2 separate regions of the Homo sapiens genome follow, and region 1 is linked to region 2. Evidence: fine-mapped expression QTL. Tissue or cell type: whole blood. Region 2 holds a variant in brackets; the other region holds the start of a gene. All regions are shown on one strand. Distances are between the middles of the regions.

Region 1 (8,099 bases), 400 kb after region 2:
CACAGCCTGTTTCCAGCTCTGGAGCACACATAGGGTGGGTTTGGAGCTGTTCACCCTTCCTGTCCTCTGCAAGACGTGCCACATGCCAGGATGGCACGTGGCAGAACTCATAGCAGCAGCTGACGTGCCAGCTCCCTGGCTCCAACCACCTGACCCCGCACTGGCCGGCCCAAAAGCATCCCAGGCCTTCAGGCCCAGCGGAAGTTCATCCCATCGGTACCCAGGAGTGTCCCCGCAAAGCCCCTCCCTCAGACCCGGCCCTGTGACACAACGCAGCCCGCACGTTATATGCAAAGGTTCCAGTACCTCGCAACTGCCAAGCAAAAAGGGACCCTCCTGCCCCCAGTACCCCAGGGTTGTAGGCTCAAGCTGCGGGCACCATGCCCACAGGGAGCTGTGGCTTCAGTGCCAGGCACGGGTGAATGTTCCCTCCAACCGAGGCACCCTGCACTGAAGGTGCCAGCACCAGGAGCCTGCCACAGAGAATGAGACGCAGACTCAGAAGGCCCAGGACCCTGGCCAAGGCAGCCCAGCCACAGGGCCATGCCCAGACACAAAGCCCTGCCACCTGATCCATGCCCACCAGGCACTGCCCAGGCCACCTGCAAGGACCCAAGTCCCTACCACCCTCCTGATCCCCTGTCCCCACACAGGCTGGGGAGGCCCTTTCTCCCAGGCTCTAGGCTCTTGCCACCTGGACTACCCCCTCCCCAGCTGACGGCCAGGGGTAAGGGATGCCTGTGTTCCCCCCAACTAGTACGAAGCCACAGTTAGGCACTCGACATGTTGGCAAGAGCGGATCTAGAAACACTGGGCCGGGTCTGCGATGTAGGTGAGGGGACCCCAGACAGCCAGGGGATGAGACCAAGGGCTCATGCCCCACAGAAGGTAGCACTGGGAAAAGCCCCAAAAGGAATTCCCAGTTTTCCTGGGAATCTAGGGCTGAGGAGTGGGTGGACAGATCTTAAAGAAGATGGAGAGAAAGAGACCTGATGGCTCAGAGAGCCCCGTCCTCCTCTGTGCCCAGCCCCACCACCTGCCTTGGCCTCTGGCCTCCCTGCCCAGCTGCAGAACAACTGCCCAGCAGCTGCTTCAGACTCCAATGCCAGAGCCTGGAGATAGGAGGGCACTGGAGTCCACAAAGTTGGGTGCTGCACCCTGAGAGCTGGCTCTGCATGGCCTTGTCTTTTGGGGAGGCAGCCAGATCAGCCCCATCCACCTCTGGGACCTGCTTCTGGCTCCATTGTTGATTAACACGCACCCGCGAGGGTTCTGCCAACACCCCTGGAAAGTTCTTGGGAAACAGGGAAAGCCAAGGCTGTAGGAGCGGGGAACAGGGGCTGCTGAGCCAGACTTAGGTTTGAGAGCCTACAGGGGCAGTCTCCATGCACTGCAGGTCCCCCCTCAAATCCCTCTCCTTGGCCACAACCAGGATCTCCAAGCATCTCAGCAACCAGAGTAGATGCCACCTGGATGTCCACACCCCTGGCTAAGGCTCACAGCAAGGGAGCTAGGACCGCTGGGTGCAGCAGGGCTGTATGGACCCCCATCCCCTCAGCTAAGATGGGAGCTGCCCCCAGTGGGGGCGCAAGCAACCACAGATAACTGGGGGTGTTGGGGGCAGGAAGCCTAAGCGGGCAAGAGTTGTGGCCCAGGTGCCGTGTCCACCCCGGCCAGCCCAGGGAGGCCAGAAGGAACACAGGAAGAGCTGCTCTCCTGGGGAGGGGGGGTTCCCCGAGGAGGGGACAGGATATCCTGGCTGGCTTCCCCAGGCGCACACAGGAGAGTTCGCCCTAGCCCTGTAGGGTCAGCGGAACACCGGCTCCTGCCTCAACCCCCCTGCACACATGCCTGGGCCCTGGCTCTTCAAGGCCAGGCTTGTCGTCTTCAGGCCAGAAACCACAATATTTCTCATTTCACAATCCACCTAAGGACAGGGCCCTGTCTCCGCCACCATTGCCAAGACTTCTTACAGCAACACAAGGCTGGACTGGCGCAAGGCTGGACCTGATTTCGTGAGGCTGCAGGTGGCCTCCAGCTACTCTGCCATCCTGGTTCTATGACCAGGTCTCCCCTCAAGAGACTGGTCCTGCCAACCTCCTAGGGCACTGAGGGTGGGAGCGCATCTCCCAGGCCCCCACCAAGCCACATGTCCTGCCCAGTCAGGGTCCACCTCCAGTCCCACCCCACATGGAGGTACCTGGGTTGGAGGCTGTTCATGACAACTTCCCAGGGCCAGGCACACGTCTTACAAGGACAGGACCCAGAACTGGAAAGGACCAGCCCCAGATCTGGCCACTTCACAGAAGCATCCCTTTCCTGGCCACCCCTTCACAGAAGCCATCCTGCCCCTGTCCCCAGAAGCCACCCCTGCCTTGCCAGCTCTGCGGAGGCTGGGCGAAGGTAGACTCTTGCTGAGCAAACTTCCGAGACCTAAACAATCCAAATGAGGAAGAAAACACAAGTGCAAGCAGAGACTTCCTCTGGGGCGTGGCGAGCCCTCTTCCTCCTCTTCCTCCACACGGGTGGCTGCAGTGAGCCCGGAGGCATGTGTCCACAAACCTGAATACAAGTGAGAATTGAGGGGGTCTGCGGGCACTTTGCCTTGGCCTCTGGCTGAGGAGGTCTTCCCACCCTTGGACATCTCAGAGAGTCTGGGGTCCGGGAGGCAGGTGGCCACCAGCACACAGCACCTGTGAACCTGGCATCTGCTAGACATTTGCACAGTGGCATCGGACTGGGTTCCCCTGGGGTCACTGCACACAAATATCTCCCAAACCCCAAGCCGAGCCCCCGCTGTTGCAGCCACGAGCAGAGCCAGCTCCTCTCACAGACCAGCAGCGGCTGTGGCTCAGGCACCCACTGACATGTCAGGAGACAGGGGCTTGGGAGCTGGGGTGGGGAAAAGTCTCCAAGATCACCCCCCAACCACATCTTTGAGGAGGGAGGTGGGTAAGACTTCCCCTTCCTGATGTGGAAGGCCACCTCTTAGCAAGGAAGGCAGTAGCCCTGCGACCCCTACCCCACCCCCTCACCTGAGACGATGCTTGAAGCCATTTGGGGCCTGGCTCCTGCTGTCACCCGCCCTGAGGCCCTGGTGGCAGCTGCCAGCAGGCATGGACAGGCCTCTGGATGCCCTCCAGCCAGTTCTCTACTGAGCCTGCCCGAGGCAGAGGAGATGCTTCCACCTGAGGACGCTCAGGGAGACCACCCTTCAGCCCTCAGGTGAGCCCCACAGCCATCAGCCATGGGATGTCTGGGTAGAGGCTCCCAGGCCAGAGGCTGGCACCACACCAAAAGGCCGCTGGCTGGGCAGCCAGGAAGTAGGGCCACTGGGGCAGCGGGGGAAGGCCCCAGGCAGGCATGGAGGAGAGCAGCCTGGACCTTCCCGGAGGTGACTTCCCAGGCCTGTCCCTGAGAAATCCAGTGCCCAGCCCTGCTCAGGCACGCTGTACCGGGAATTGGAACCACCTGGTAACAGGGGGGCCAGGTGCCTCTGCTACCAGCGCTGCTTTCTCCGGGAGCACAGCTGCCTCTTAGTGAGAGCTGCAAACGTGCCTCTCCGCTCTCTGCATCAAGCCAGGTTTTCATGAGCTTGGTTCAATTAGTTAATGTGGGGCCCGTGGGGACGGCCCGTGGCATGCTGAGCCCTCAGGGAGCACCGCCACCGTCACCTTCCTATCCTGGACAGCCCCCTGCCCCAGAGTCCACCTGGGCCTCAGGGGGTCTGAGATGCGGCACCGGACATCAGGGGCCTTCTCTCTTGGGGGCTCCTGAGCCTCGAGTCTCAGCCGACCTTGAGGAGTTATCTTACTGCACCCAAGGGTGCGCTCCCCAGCACGCTTCTCTTCCCAGAAGGATTCACACCTGGACTACCCTCCCGGAGGTGTGGAGCCAAATTCTGGGCTCCAGGTGGTCCCCTCCCCAGCCGGCTCCCTCCCCACGCCGGGCCTGCGAGAAGATGCGCACCCCCAGACACAGCAGCGCCTCTGAACTTCAAGGGAGAGTGCAGAGTTTGTGTTTCTGCGTTTCCCCACTTCCTTCCCTCCTCTGCTCCGGGGTCGCAGCTCCGACGGGGCAGGTGGCGCTGGGACAGAGCTCCCCCACACCAGCTCTCAGGAAGCACCTTCGTGCCGGCCGTCGCCGGTGGCGATACTCACACGGCGAAGTGGTAAACGAAGCATTTCCAGCCGGTGGGACGCTCGAGGAAGTTGTAGACGCGGCCCTGGACGTGGGTGCGCGCCAACACCGGGCGGCGCGTGCTGTAGATGGAGACGCGCGGGTCTAGGCTCACCGGCGGCCGCGGGCCAAGGTCGGAGGCAACTGGGGGCGCGGCGGGCGCGGCCGGGGACGCAGGGGGCGCGGGACCTGGGGCGCCGGGCGCGATGGGCGCGTAGAGCGCGCCGCCCGCCGGGCCGCCCTCCGCCAGCTCCAGCGAGAAGGGGCACTTCTTGGCCAGGCCCGCGCTGCCCCGCCGGGCGCCTGGCAGGCGGCCCCAACCCCAGCGCTTCCTCTCGGCCCTGGGCGGGGAGGAGGCCGCGGCCATAACGAGGAGGGCCTGCCGGGGGGCCGGCCCGAGCGGCGGCACCGGGAGCTGCAGCGAAGGCGAGCGCCCGGGCGCAGTGCGGGCAGCCACTGCTGCCAGCCCCGCCGCGGGGGGCCGCTGCCGGCCCAGCCCGGGCGCTCGGGGCGGGGCCGGAGGGGGCAGTGGCCGAGGGCCGGTCCCATGGGACGGCGTGCCCCGCCCCCGCCTGCACGCCCCGCCCCCGCCGGTCCGGCGCGCACAGGGCGTCCCTGCCCGCGCCCACCGGCTTGGCCCGCCCTCTCCCCACGGACCGGCCTGGCCCTGCCTCCGCCTCACCCCCTGGCTTGGCCTGTCCGCGCCCCCGCCCCCGCCTGCGCCCCCGCCCCCACCCCCACCCCCGCCCGAGCCCACCTGCTTAGCCCCGCTCGTGTCATCTATCCCGCTTGGCCCCGCCCCCTCCTCGCCCACCTGTTTGGCCCCGTTCCAGTGTGCATTTACCCCGCCTGGCCCCGCCCCCTCCCCGCCCACCTGCTTGGCCCCGCCCTCACCCACCTGCTTGGCCCCGCCCCGTCTGCATCTCCCCTGCTTGCTCCTGCCCTGCCCTCACCCACCTGCTTGGCCCCCACTTCTGATGCCCGCCTGCTCTGCCTGGCCCGGAGGAGGACCCCAGCTGCGCCAGGGAGGAAGGGGTAAGGCCTGGCCGATACCACGACCGAGAACGGCACAGCGGGGGCAGGAGGGGCGGGGTAGGGTGCCGGCATCTACTTTCCCTCCCTCTGAGCCACTCCGGAGTTGGGGTTGGGGGGAGGAAAGGGATGTCCTGGGTGAGGGTGTGCTGGCCCCGCGATCACTGTGAGCGCCCCCGGGTGCCCAGGCGCGCGAGCTGCGGGCGGCGAATACGCTCGGGTCGCTTCCCACCAGGGCCCTTGGACCGGGAGGGTGAGATGGGACCACCACTGTCAGGTACCTCCCAGTGGGAGCTGTGTGGGTGGGGAGCCGGCAGGGCTGCTGGGGGGTGGGGGCGGCACAGCCGGGGTCTGGACCTGGTTTGACTGCCGGGCATAGCAGGCGGGGCTGCCTGGGCAGTTAAAGGGAGAGGCGCTTGCGCCACCCTAGTAACTTGGAGAATGGGCGCCTTGTCCTCCCCACCGTCGAGACCGCGCTGCCGCTGCGCCCCGTGGATTCCCCTGGGTGGGGGTGGGTTGGTCACATCGGAAGATTTTCACAGGTCTCTGCACTGCCTCCCGCCCGCTACTGGCATTTGGGTCTCAGCACGTCTCAGGCTTGGGGGGGGGGTGGGGGGCAGCCAACAGAAGAGACCGGCTTTTTTCAGGATACTGCACACAGCCCTGAGGCAGGGACTAAAGGTGGAGCTCAGCGGTGACTCTCCGCCCCGCCAGGAGACCCATAACTCATGTGACACTTCCAGGTCGTCCCTGAGCACCCTGGGTCAATTTGATGTATCTACCACCCCCTGCCAAAAGTCTGCTCTTTTATCGTGGACGGAGTCCAGCCCAGGCCCTTGACGCCTGACTCCCCACCCTAGTGAGGTGCCACACAGGAGTGCACAGTCTGTATTTGCAGCAAGAGTGGATGGAGTGGGTCCCAGCTTGTGCTGGGCGCTGTGATAACACAAGGGAGGCCGAGGAGAGGGTACCTTCCTGGGAAGCATATCAGTGAAGGTGCAGAAGGGCAGCGGGTCAGAAGATGGGGGCAGTCAGTCAGCTCTGCAGGGCACACAGCACGCATTCAGCAGTTACTTTCCGGGTGAACATACATACACCTGCATGGAGTCTCTGCCTTCCCCTCCCACCTCAGCAGGAGGAAGGTGAGCTTTGAATAAGCAGCGTTTGGACAACTGGACAGTCATAAAGAAAGAAAAAGCATACCTTGGGTCCATCTCACCGCACACGAGAATAAATCTCAAATGAATCAGAGGCTCAAGTGTAAAGGGTGAGATGAAGCCATGCAAATTCTACAAGAATGTACAGGTCAATTCCTCAAGAACCTGTGAATCGGGAAAACATTTCCAACTATGACTTGAAATCCAAAAGCAACAGATAAAATAAGAAAAATTAAAATAGAAGCACCATTAGCAAAGTAAAGGAGACAAATGACCAAATGGGAAAAGTATTTGCAGTTTCGATCACAAAGGATTAATATCACTGATACATAAAGAACATCAAAACTGAGGTGAGGAACCTGCCAGACAGTCCTATAGAAAAGGGAGCAGAAGACATGAGCAGTTCATAGGAAATGGGGTTCATGACCTTTGCACTTATGAAAAAATGTTCAACCTCATTTATAACAAGAAAAATGCAAATGAAAAGTACACTCTGATACCACTGCTTGCTTATCAGATTGGCAAAAATCCAGACTTTTGATGGCAACTCTGTGGGAGAGGCAGCAGGCACAGGTGCACTCCTCATCACTGGTAGAAAAGAGACCTAGCGATATTACTAAATGTATCATTTGACACAGAAACCCCACTTCTAGGAAATAACCCAAAGATATGTAGGAAAAATAGAAAAGTACATATACATAATGATAGTCAAAACAGCATTTTTTATATTAGCAAAAGTCTAGAGACAATCACAATGTCCTTCAATCGCTTCAGCTGTGCTGTGGTACAGTCACACGATGGAGTGCCATGATCAATATGATCACTAATACTCAACCAAAGGATCCCAAAGAACTCTGTGTGTGTGTGTGTGTGTGTGTGTGTGTGTGTGTGTGTGTGTGTATCAAAGAATGATGCTAAATTCCTTTGGAACCAAGATTTTCAGTATAAAAGTGATACAGATTTAAAAAATCAAAGAAGTACAAACCAGTCCTTAAATTGAATGGACTATATTAGCATAGACTCCTCAGCTATTTTATCTTAGGAAAAAGGTATATCCTACTATTGTTCATTGTCAAGTTTGAGAAGGGGCTGATCAACAATGGGACAATTTGAGCATCAGAAAGAGTCATGGATGAAAACACATCAAATAGCTGAAAAGCCCATGCATTCATGATAATACTGAAAAATCCTATTTGATCTTCTGCAGGTTGCTTTGCTCATTATTCTGAAAACGAGTGAAAAGGCAGGGCGGTCAGGCAGGTCAAGCCTCCATATTTTAAAAATTCTAGGCCGGATGCAGTGGCTCACACCTGTAATCCCAGCACTTTGGGAGGCCGAGGCAGGCTGATCGCTTGAGGTCAGGAGTTTGAGACCAGCCTGGTCAACATGGTAAAACCCCGCCTCTACTGAAAATCCAAAATTAGCTGGGTGTGGTGGCACACACCTGTAATCCCACCTACTCAGGAGGCTGAGGCAGGAGAATCACTTGGACCCGGGAGGCAGAGGCTGCAGTGAGCTGAGATCGCACCACTGCACTCCAGCCTGGGTGACAAGAGCGAAACTCCATCTAAAAAAAAAAAATTCTAATAACTCACTAGGGAGGCTTCTTGGAGGCCCCCAGGGCTGTCTCCTGGGCCCTGAGCTGTGCCACAGCCTGCTGCTCTGGGGGTATGGGGTCCCATTGGCTTGGGGACACTGAGGCAGGAGAGAGACTGGACAAGGGATTGTCTT
Region 2 (8,099 bases):
CCACTCCCGGGAAGTGGAAGGAGCTGTGTGTTTGAGGCCCCAGAAGGCACCAGGATGGATTCTGTCCACTGAGCCATCCATGGCCACCTCTGGGCCCGGCTTGTGTCTTCCTGGGCCTCGGGCTCGCTGCCTGTACGTGTGCGAAACCCAAGCCTGGGGATAGGTGGGCGGTGGGGCTGGGCTTGGCTCTGGGAATTAAGGGCGGCCTCGTCCCCTCTGGGAGCCATGGGTGAGGGTCTAGAAGGAAGAGTGGGGAGCGGGCCCAAGCATCTCCTGGAGTCCAGCAGGGCTGCCCTGGGCCAGGCTGTCCATCTCCTTTACGCTCTGCCTCACTCAGGTGCCTTGAGCTGTGGGGGCTGCAGGGGAGGGGAGTTGTAGGAGGCCTGGTACGGGGTGCTGAAGAGGAGGGCCAGGAGGTCATAGCAGGACCTACTGAGGGAGAAGGATCTTGAGGGCAGAGTGGATGCCCCGCCTCCTATTACCCAGCCAGTGCCTGGGTGGGACAGGCTGGGGCCTTGGCCTCTAAGGCCTTGGGCTGGGGTGGCAGCCCCCAGCCCTCCTGCACTGCCCGACTGAGGGCCCTCTAGGCTTCCTCACCAAGGCTCCACAGTGGAGTTGGGAAGGGCCGGGGTGGGACCTGTCAGCTTCCAGGGGGCCCTGGCCCCGGCTGTCTGCACTCAGAGGCCAGTGGAAACTGAAGCTCTGTTTGGCTTTGGCTGCCCCAAGCATCCTCCAGGCCTGGCTGCCTGGGACCCTGGCTGACCTGGGTGGGGACAGGAAAGGTGAAGGGTGCTGGGACACAGGCCACAGGCCTGATCTCCCAACTAGCTGGCCCTCCAGGGCCACAAGAATAGGGCCAGAGGCAAGAGCGGGGTTGGTGCAGTTGGGGGCCGAGAATGGTGAGGCTGAGACACGCTTAAGATCCCCAAGGAGGCCGGGTGCGGTGGCTCATGCCTGTAATCCCAGCGCTTTGGGAGGCCGAGGCGGGCGGATCACGAGGTCAGGAGATCGAGGCCATCCTGGCTGACATGGTTAAACCCCATCTCTACTAAAAATACAAAAAAAAATTAGCCGGGCGTGGTGGTGGGCGCCTGTAGTCCCAGCTACTCGGGAGGCTGAGGCAGGAGAATGGCGGGAGGCGGAGCTTGCAGTGAGCTGAGATCGTGCCACTGCACTCCAGCCTGAGAGACAGAGTGAGACTCCGTCTCAAAAAAAAAAAAAAAAGATTCGCAAGGAACCCCTGGGTCCTAGAGCCCGGAGGGCTGTGCTGAGAGGAGGCTGGGGTGCTGGGGGGAGCAGGCTTTGGCACAGCTCAGATGGGCACTCCAAATTAGGGACTTGATATAGTTGAGAAAGGGCAGTCTTCATCCCTGCAGGTGACTCAGCAAATCCCCTGGAGATGGGGGTGCTGTGTGTGGTGGCCCCAGGAGCCCTGGCTCTTGTCTGCCTTCCTGCTCCTTCCCCCAGCTGTCTGGCTGCCCCAGATCAAAACACCTGGCCTGATCCCTCCTTCAGGGCGCAGGGTGTGGACCCCTCTCCTGTCCATTGGAGGGACGCCTGGTGATGCCCTGCTTGGGTCCTGGTACCTCTGCTGCACATGCAGCACTGGGCAGCCTCCTTCCAACTTTTCATTTTATTCCTTAATTTAACTGGCACTTCCTGAGCACCCAGCTGGGGCCAGGCTTGTACTAGGCACTGCCAGCCCCGGCTCCTTTTTGGGGCCTCAAAGGCCCAGCACAGCCCCTCTCCCAGTGGTGGGCCTGACTCCTGACCACCACGCTGGTGGGGGACTGCCTGCCAAGATGGTGCTCAGAGGAGGTCCTGAGTAGGGAGGGGGGCTGGACGTCAAGTACAGGGTGAGGATGGGGAAGCTGGGCTCATGGCGGGGGATGCCCAGGGTGAGTGGCAGGGTTGCAGCCTGTGGGGCCTCACAGGCCCACTCAGCAGTGGGGAGTCATGGTTGGCTTGAGAGCAGGATGGGGAACTGCCAGCTTGGGTTTGGACAGCTCTCCCTGGCACCGAGGGGCAGGGAGCTTGGTGGGGTAAGGCTAGATGCAGGAGGGGCCTCAGAAAGGAGCTCCGAGGCAACAGGCAGGAGAGCAGCAAGGAGGCAGAGCCCAGTATCACCCACCCAGGTGGTTTGTTTGGCTTCCTTTATTAAGCACCTACTGTGTGCTCACATGTCTCATCTCCATCAAGCCCCTGCCCCGTACGCCCCTTCTAGGGGGCACTTTTACTGTTCCCCATTTCGCAGACAGGACTGGGGTGGGAGCTGAGGGGCTGCAGGTCGGCCCCGCCCTTGACTCCTCCTCCTCCTGGCTCCCTGGCCCGAAGATGGGAGAACCTCGGGCTTGGCCAGTGCCAGCCCTAGAGACGGGCTTCCCCATGGCCACGCCCAGCACCCACGAGGGGACATCTGGGGGCAGGCAACGGGGGAGGAGAGCCTGGCAGAGGAGGTGGGTGCCCCAGGAAGCAGGAGCAGCCCCTCCCCCAGTCACCCCCAGCAGATGCTCCTGGCACCCATTGGACCCCGAGGACCTCAATAAGGGAGCCCAATTTGGAGACAAAGGCCGGCTCTGGGGACAAACACTCATGGCTATCCTCAGCCAGAGCAGCCAGGCAGCCGCGGTGAGGCCACAAAGGGCCCGAAGAAAGGGGCTGCGGGAGGGGCCGTGAATGGGTCGGGGCTGCACATGCCACCGTTGCCCGGGCGACGGCCCTCTCGCAGAGAGGTCTGCCGGGCCATTGTCCGGGGCCCGCAGGACGTGCCACACACCAGATGGTCGTGTGCTGTCTAGGTCACTTATCGGGGGACAGAGTGAAGGAATGCGGCCGGCACGGCGGGCCGAGGCGCCATCTGTTCCCTCAGTCCACGGGCACCGGCGGGCATTGAGCACTCGGCCGGCCAGGCCCAGCCTCCGCCATGGCTTTAATTAGCTAATTCCATAATTGGGCTTTATTTCAGGTAAATTGCATTTCACACCCGAGAGGGCTGCAATGGCCCGTCCAGGAGAGGAGTCCTCGGGCACTTTGTGCGCAGTCCATAATATGGACAACAAGGCGGGCTGGGTGCCGGGGCCGCGCCCGGCCCAGATGGGCGGCCCCACGGAGCTCCCTGTGGGCCAGGGTCCCGGGGTGGGCGGCCGGGGCTGGGGGGCCTGGGCGCTGTGGAGGGCCCTGCTTTCCGGCCGGCATCCCCGGGTTTCCACAAATATTTACCCAACAAGGAAACAACAGTTCCTGCCTTTCAGTAACTGCTGCTCCCGCTCCTCCCGGAGGGGTGCAGGCCAGGGAAGCCTGGGAAGCCCCGTGCTGCCCCTCCACCTCGTCCATCCCGGTCAGTGCTGGCCAGGCCAGATGCCAAGACCCATGGGTTGGGGGCACGGGCCCAGTGGGCTTGGCACCAGGTGGGACCCAGGGCCTTTCCCTCTAACAAGGGCTTCCACCCCTACTCCACACAGAAACCTGGGGCCCCTGTCCCTGCCACCTGCTGCTGGCCGCCTCCTGCCCCCAGTGGACTCAGGACAGCCCCATCCTTGATATCTCAGATGCCCCAAGCCCTCATATCCTGAGACTTCGGGATGGGCTCTGGAAAGAGGACAGAAGGCGGCTGCAGTCCTGAAGGACTGAGAAACGGTCCAATAGCTGAGGTGGGGGCACAGCAGATGCACCTGCCCCGGTTGAGTGTGTCTGTGCCGAGAGTGAGGCACTCTTTCCACCTTAGGAGAGGCGGGCCTCACAGAAAGCTGCAGGAACAGGGTCAGGGCGAGCAGGGTGGTGGCCCCTCTGTCCCACTCAGAGAACTGGACAGGCTAAGGGAGCATCGTGTTACCAATGGGGAAATAGAGGCCCGGAGGAGGCCAGGGGTGAGCATATGGGAGCCTCAGGGGCCCCAGGCCTTCCTTGCACCACAACCCCTCCAGAGTTTAGCCCTTGGCATCCTGGGGAATGGGCCTGGGTGGGGCCTGCTCCCAGAGTGGAGCATGTGGGTCCTTGATGAAGGGCCACCCTGGCCTGGGAGGGGCAGACAGAGAGGCCCAGACAGAGCCCATCTGCCGCAAGGGCATAGAGTCTGCTGGAAGACAGGCAGTGACCACACTGTGACTGCACTTCATGGCCAGGGCCAGCCCAGGGCCCAGAACAGGAGCGACGTCGCTAAGCTAGAGCCTTCGATGGCATCTTGCAGCCCCTCTGAACCCTGACCTACTCCTCAGTACACGGACATAGCGTTCCTATTCCACAGCCACCTGGGCACTGCTTCCAGGGGAACTGCAGGGGTCCTGTCTGTGAGAGACCCCATGGATGCCCCAGGAACCAAGGTGAGAGCAGTGCCCAGCCCAGCCTGTGATTCTCCACGTTTATTAGGAAAAGCTTGCACAATTAATAATCAAAATCACACTGTGAAACTCATTAAAACACAGATCCAAATCACCACAAATTATTGATTTCTATGCGATGTAATGCCCAGAAGGAACCCCTGTCCTGTGTAGGAACCGTCACTTCTCTGCGGCTCAGCAGCTGGCAAGGGGAGGTGGCAGTCCCCTTCTGTGTGTTTGGCTGGCTGCTGGGACTGGGCGAGGGGTTGGAGGCGGGAGCCCCACGCACAGTGGGCTCAGGGGCGGAGAGGCAGGGCTCCTCTCCAGCTAGGAAGAGCTGGCAGTCTAACCCAGGGAAGTGGGCGTTCCCCCCACTCAACCACGTGCCCTGGGGAAATGGTGAGACTGTCCCTCCTGCTGGAAGCTGGGGGCTCAGGAGCAGTCTCCACAGTCTCCTGCCCATGGGTCAGCATTTCCTGAGAGTGAGGGAGCCAGGCCCAGGCCCTCCAAATGGGCTCCTGGGCTTTTATTGCCGG[C/T]GGCCCTGTAGTCAGCGTGGGCTGGTCCTGCCCTGCCTGTGCCTGGCAGGGTCCTGGATTTGAGGCTGGGGTCCAGGGGTTGCTCTGTCTCCCCTCAGGAAGCCCCCTGGGCCAAGCAGGGTGGGCCTGCACTCAGCCTGTGCTACTTCCTGGCCATACATGGGCCAGGCCCTGTGCCCTGCCACTGGGTCCCAACCACCATGCCAGTGATGTCAACATCACCATGTGGGGGCCAGGGCGCTTGGGGTAACAACTCAGACCTGAGACGGGGCCCCCACACCGGCCAGGAAGAGGTGGCCTTGCTGAGCCCCCAAGTGCAGGCTGTGCCAGACAGCATGGTCCATGGGGTATTGGGGCCTCTGAGAGTGGGGCTCTTCTCTCTGGGCCTTTTAGGAGGTGGCCTCCTTCAGAGAGGGCCAGGTGGGGCCACTCTTGGCCTCCCCTCTCACTCAGGCCCATCCCCCAGCCCCATCCCCTCCTCAGGACCCCTCATCGGGGCCCCTCCTGGGCACGGTCAGCTGCTCGTAGGTGGGCAGGGTGTTGCTGGGCAGGAAGAGCTCAGGGTCGACGGAGCCGCCACTGCCGCAGGGCTGGGTGATGTGGGCCCCGCCCTCTCTGGGGGGGCCGCCGCTGCCGGGGGTGCTGCCACCGTGCAAGGAGAGCAGCTGGTGAAGCATGTCGGTGATGAGTGCCAGCCTCTGGTCCAGCTGCGTCACCTGCGGGGACAAAGGCAGACGAGAGAGTCAGTGGTGGGAAGCACCCAGGTGTGCAGACAGCCTCAGGGCCCAGGTTTGGGGCCAGAGAAGGGAAGGTGCCAACCGTCTCTGCAAGTGCATGCTGTATGCAGGCGGCACGCACGTGTGCACCCTATGTCTGCAAGGCCCTCGGTCGCGCCTGTGTGTGTGCAAGGAATGTGCATGTGTGCCGATTGGAGTCCATCCCGTGCGTGCTGGGAGTCCCTATATGTGTCCACAGGCATTCAGGCTCAGGGCCAGGAGCTCTCCTCTCCTCCTTCTCTGCTCCCCAGGCTGGCCGGCCTTCTGTGCCACATCCCCGCATGGCAGGGTCTGCACCAGGGACCCGGACCTGAAATATTTGGGTTTGCGGCAGCCTTTGGCTTCTTGAGGCCAGGCTTGGGGACATTTGGGTTAAGGGTCAAGAAAGGCTGGGGGCTATGTCTACTGTGTCTGGAGGAGAACTGGACAGAGGGCAGAGTTCAGCAAGGCTGGCTCATGGGCAGGGCCTGGGGTGGTTGAGGAGGCAGAGGGCTTGGGCTTTGCCTGGGTGTGCAGGGGATGCCCCTGCTGGGCCACTTCCAGGAGGGGCTTGCAGGGCACAGGGCTTGTGCCTCTGTGATGCTTTCTGCAAGGGGGTGGGGGTGGGTTTTTTTGTCATCCCCCAGGAACCATTATGCCATGTCTTTAACCTAGCGGGGACACCACTATTTTCCCAGACACCATCTGCACCCACATTCTGTGGTCAGAGCAGTGCCCTAGAGCGTGCCCTCTGGCTAGCCATGTGGCCTCCACCTTCTCAGGGGCTGGTTCTGCAGTGAGCTATGTGCCAGGGTGGCTGCCCTGCAAAGCTGGCAGGGAGGTCAAGGCAGGACAGAACCCGAAATGCACCCAGCACAGAGAGTAGGTGATCAGAGGCCTCGCAGTGCTGCGGAGGCAGCAGAGAAGCCCCAAACGAGTGGACAGCCAGGTGATCTGAGAGCTCCTTGGAAGGACAGCACCGCTGGGGAATGAGGCTGGAGCCCGCCCCGGGTGGGAAGTGGCCATCCAGCCTTGATGGGGAGACTGGAAGGCCCTGGCCGGCAGGCCGGCACCCTGGCACCCTCAGAGCAGGTGCTGGGTGGAGCAGGGCCAACCCCAGGGGCAGACTAGGGCAGGTGAGGGAGTCCAGGTTGGGGACCCCTCTCCCTAGGAGGTTGGACCTGGGGGCCCTAGCATGAGTGAGGGTTCGGGGAGGGCGCACAGCTCTGTTGGTGGCCACAGGAGACAGGGCTGGTCCTTCAGCCTGCGGTGTTCTTGCAGGAGAGCCCCTCAGCGTGCTCTGTGGAGAATGAAGTAGACCCTCCCCCACCGTGGGTACCTGGAGGCCTGGAAAGACCTAGAAGTGGTGGGGGAGGGGCAAACAGATCAGCACGCGATAAGGGCTGAACAGCAGAGCTGCTTCAGGGAAACGTATGGCTCCAGAGAGAGGCACGAAGATGACTCAGCCACAGCAACGTCAACCACTGGCCCTAAGCACAGGCAGCAGGCGGGAGCTGGCCCGGTCCACCTGGCCGTGCACTCCAGGGGTCTGCACCCTAGGCTGCGCCGGGCGGGCCTGGTCCCTCATGCGCCCGGCCCCACTGCTGATCCAGCCGGATAGGCTTGGGGTGAGGTGTGGGCCAGGGCTGGGTTCTGTGCGGGTGAGACAACCCCAGGGAAGATGCTGCTGGGTGACGTGGGCACAAGCCCCGGGATGGCCAGAGAGGGAGCAACCAGTTTGCTAGGGTCTGGGTGGACCCGGGCCAGCTTCAAAGGCTGGGTGCTGTGGTCGTCACCCACAGCACCTACCACGGAGGCTGAGCAGGCTAAGGAAGAGGCGGCCAACAGGGTGCTGTGAGAGGCTGAGATGAGAGGGGGGCGCCTGCCTGAGTGGGGCCGAGCGTCTGTCTAGAGGGCTAGGTGGGCAGCCTCCACCTGGGAGGGTGGGACTGTGCCCTGCCCAGAGCAGGAGCCCAGGGGACCCACTTCCAGCCCTGGGTGGTGGGGGCTGCAGTGTGGAGGCTCCCTGGCTCCCCTGTGGTTCTGCCTTGCAGGTATGGGGTGAGTCTGAGACCCAACTGTCCTGAACACAAGGGCAGGTGTACATCCGAGGTCTGACGGTCCAGGCCAGAGGGAGCCCCATGTTTTATTTTTCCCAGATAAACCTGATGTGAGGCCCAGACTATGGAGGAAAGGGGTGCAGGACTTCTGTGGTTTGGCAGGGGCAGGGGCCCAGGGCCATCCACCGGGGTCTCTCACACCCAAGGACCCGCCAGCACTTCAGTGCTCTGCAAAGCCACTTGGGGACGAGCCACAGAGGCCCACACTCCATCCCACAGATGCAGACACTGAGGCCCAGGAAAAGAGGGTCAGAGTCACTGGCTGAAAGTGCCATGTCTCCCATCCTGTCCCCACAGCTCCCACCCCAAGGCTCCATCTCGAGACCACGGAGCTGCCATATGGGGGGACACAGTGTGTCAGGTAGGGAGCCG

What was found. PIP is the estimated chance that this variant, and not a neighbour inherited with it, causes the effect.
Region 1: it holds the start of KCNQ1, and the variant in region 2 is fine-mapped to the expression of KCNQ1 in whole blood (TOPMed, PIP 0.99).

What each region holds. Positions count from the first base shown.
Region 1 is chr11:2,441,546-2,449,644 of GRCh38, reverse strand. KCNQ1 (potassium voltage-gated channel subfamily Q member 1) reads right to left here and starts at 4,637. Exons shown (of 16, transcript NM_000218.3): 1 at 4,161-4,637. The coding sequence starts at 4,546. It overlaps TRPM5 (transient receptor potential cation channel subfamily M member 5), which reads left to right and starts at 5,131. Exons shown (of 29, transcript NM_014555.4): 1 at 5,131-5,214. RefSeq lists silencers at 4,648-4,717, 4,728-4,837.
Region 2 is chr11:2,845,236-2,853,334 of GRCh38, reverse strand. It overlaps KCNQ1 (potassium voltage-gated channel subfamily Q member 1), which reads right to left. Exons shown (of 16, transcript NM_000218.3): 16 at 4,230-5,568. The coding sequence ends at 5,332. All of the region lies in intron 2 of KCNQ1-AS1 (KCNQ1 antisense RNA 1), which reads left to right. Among named protein-coding and RNA genes, the nearest start is that of KCNQ1-AS1, 12 kb to the left of the region's middle. The variant C/T (reference allele first, on the strand shown) is at 4,853.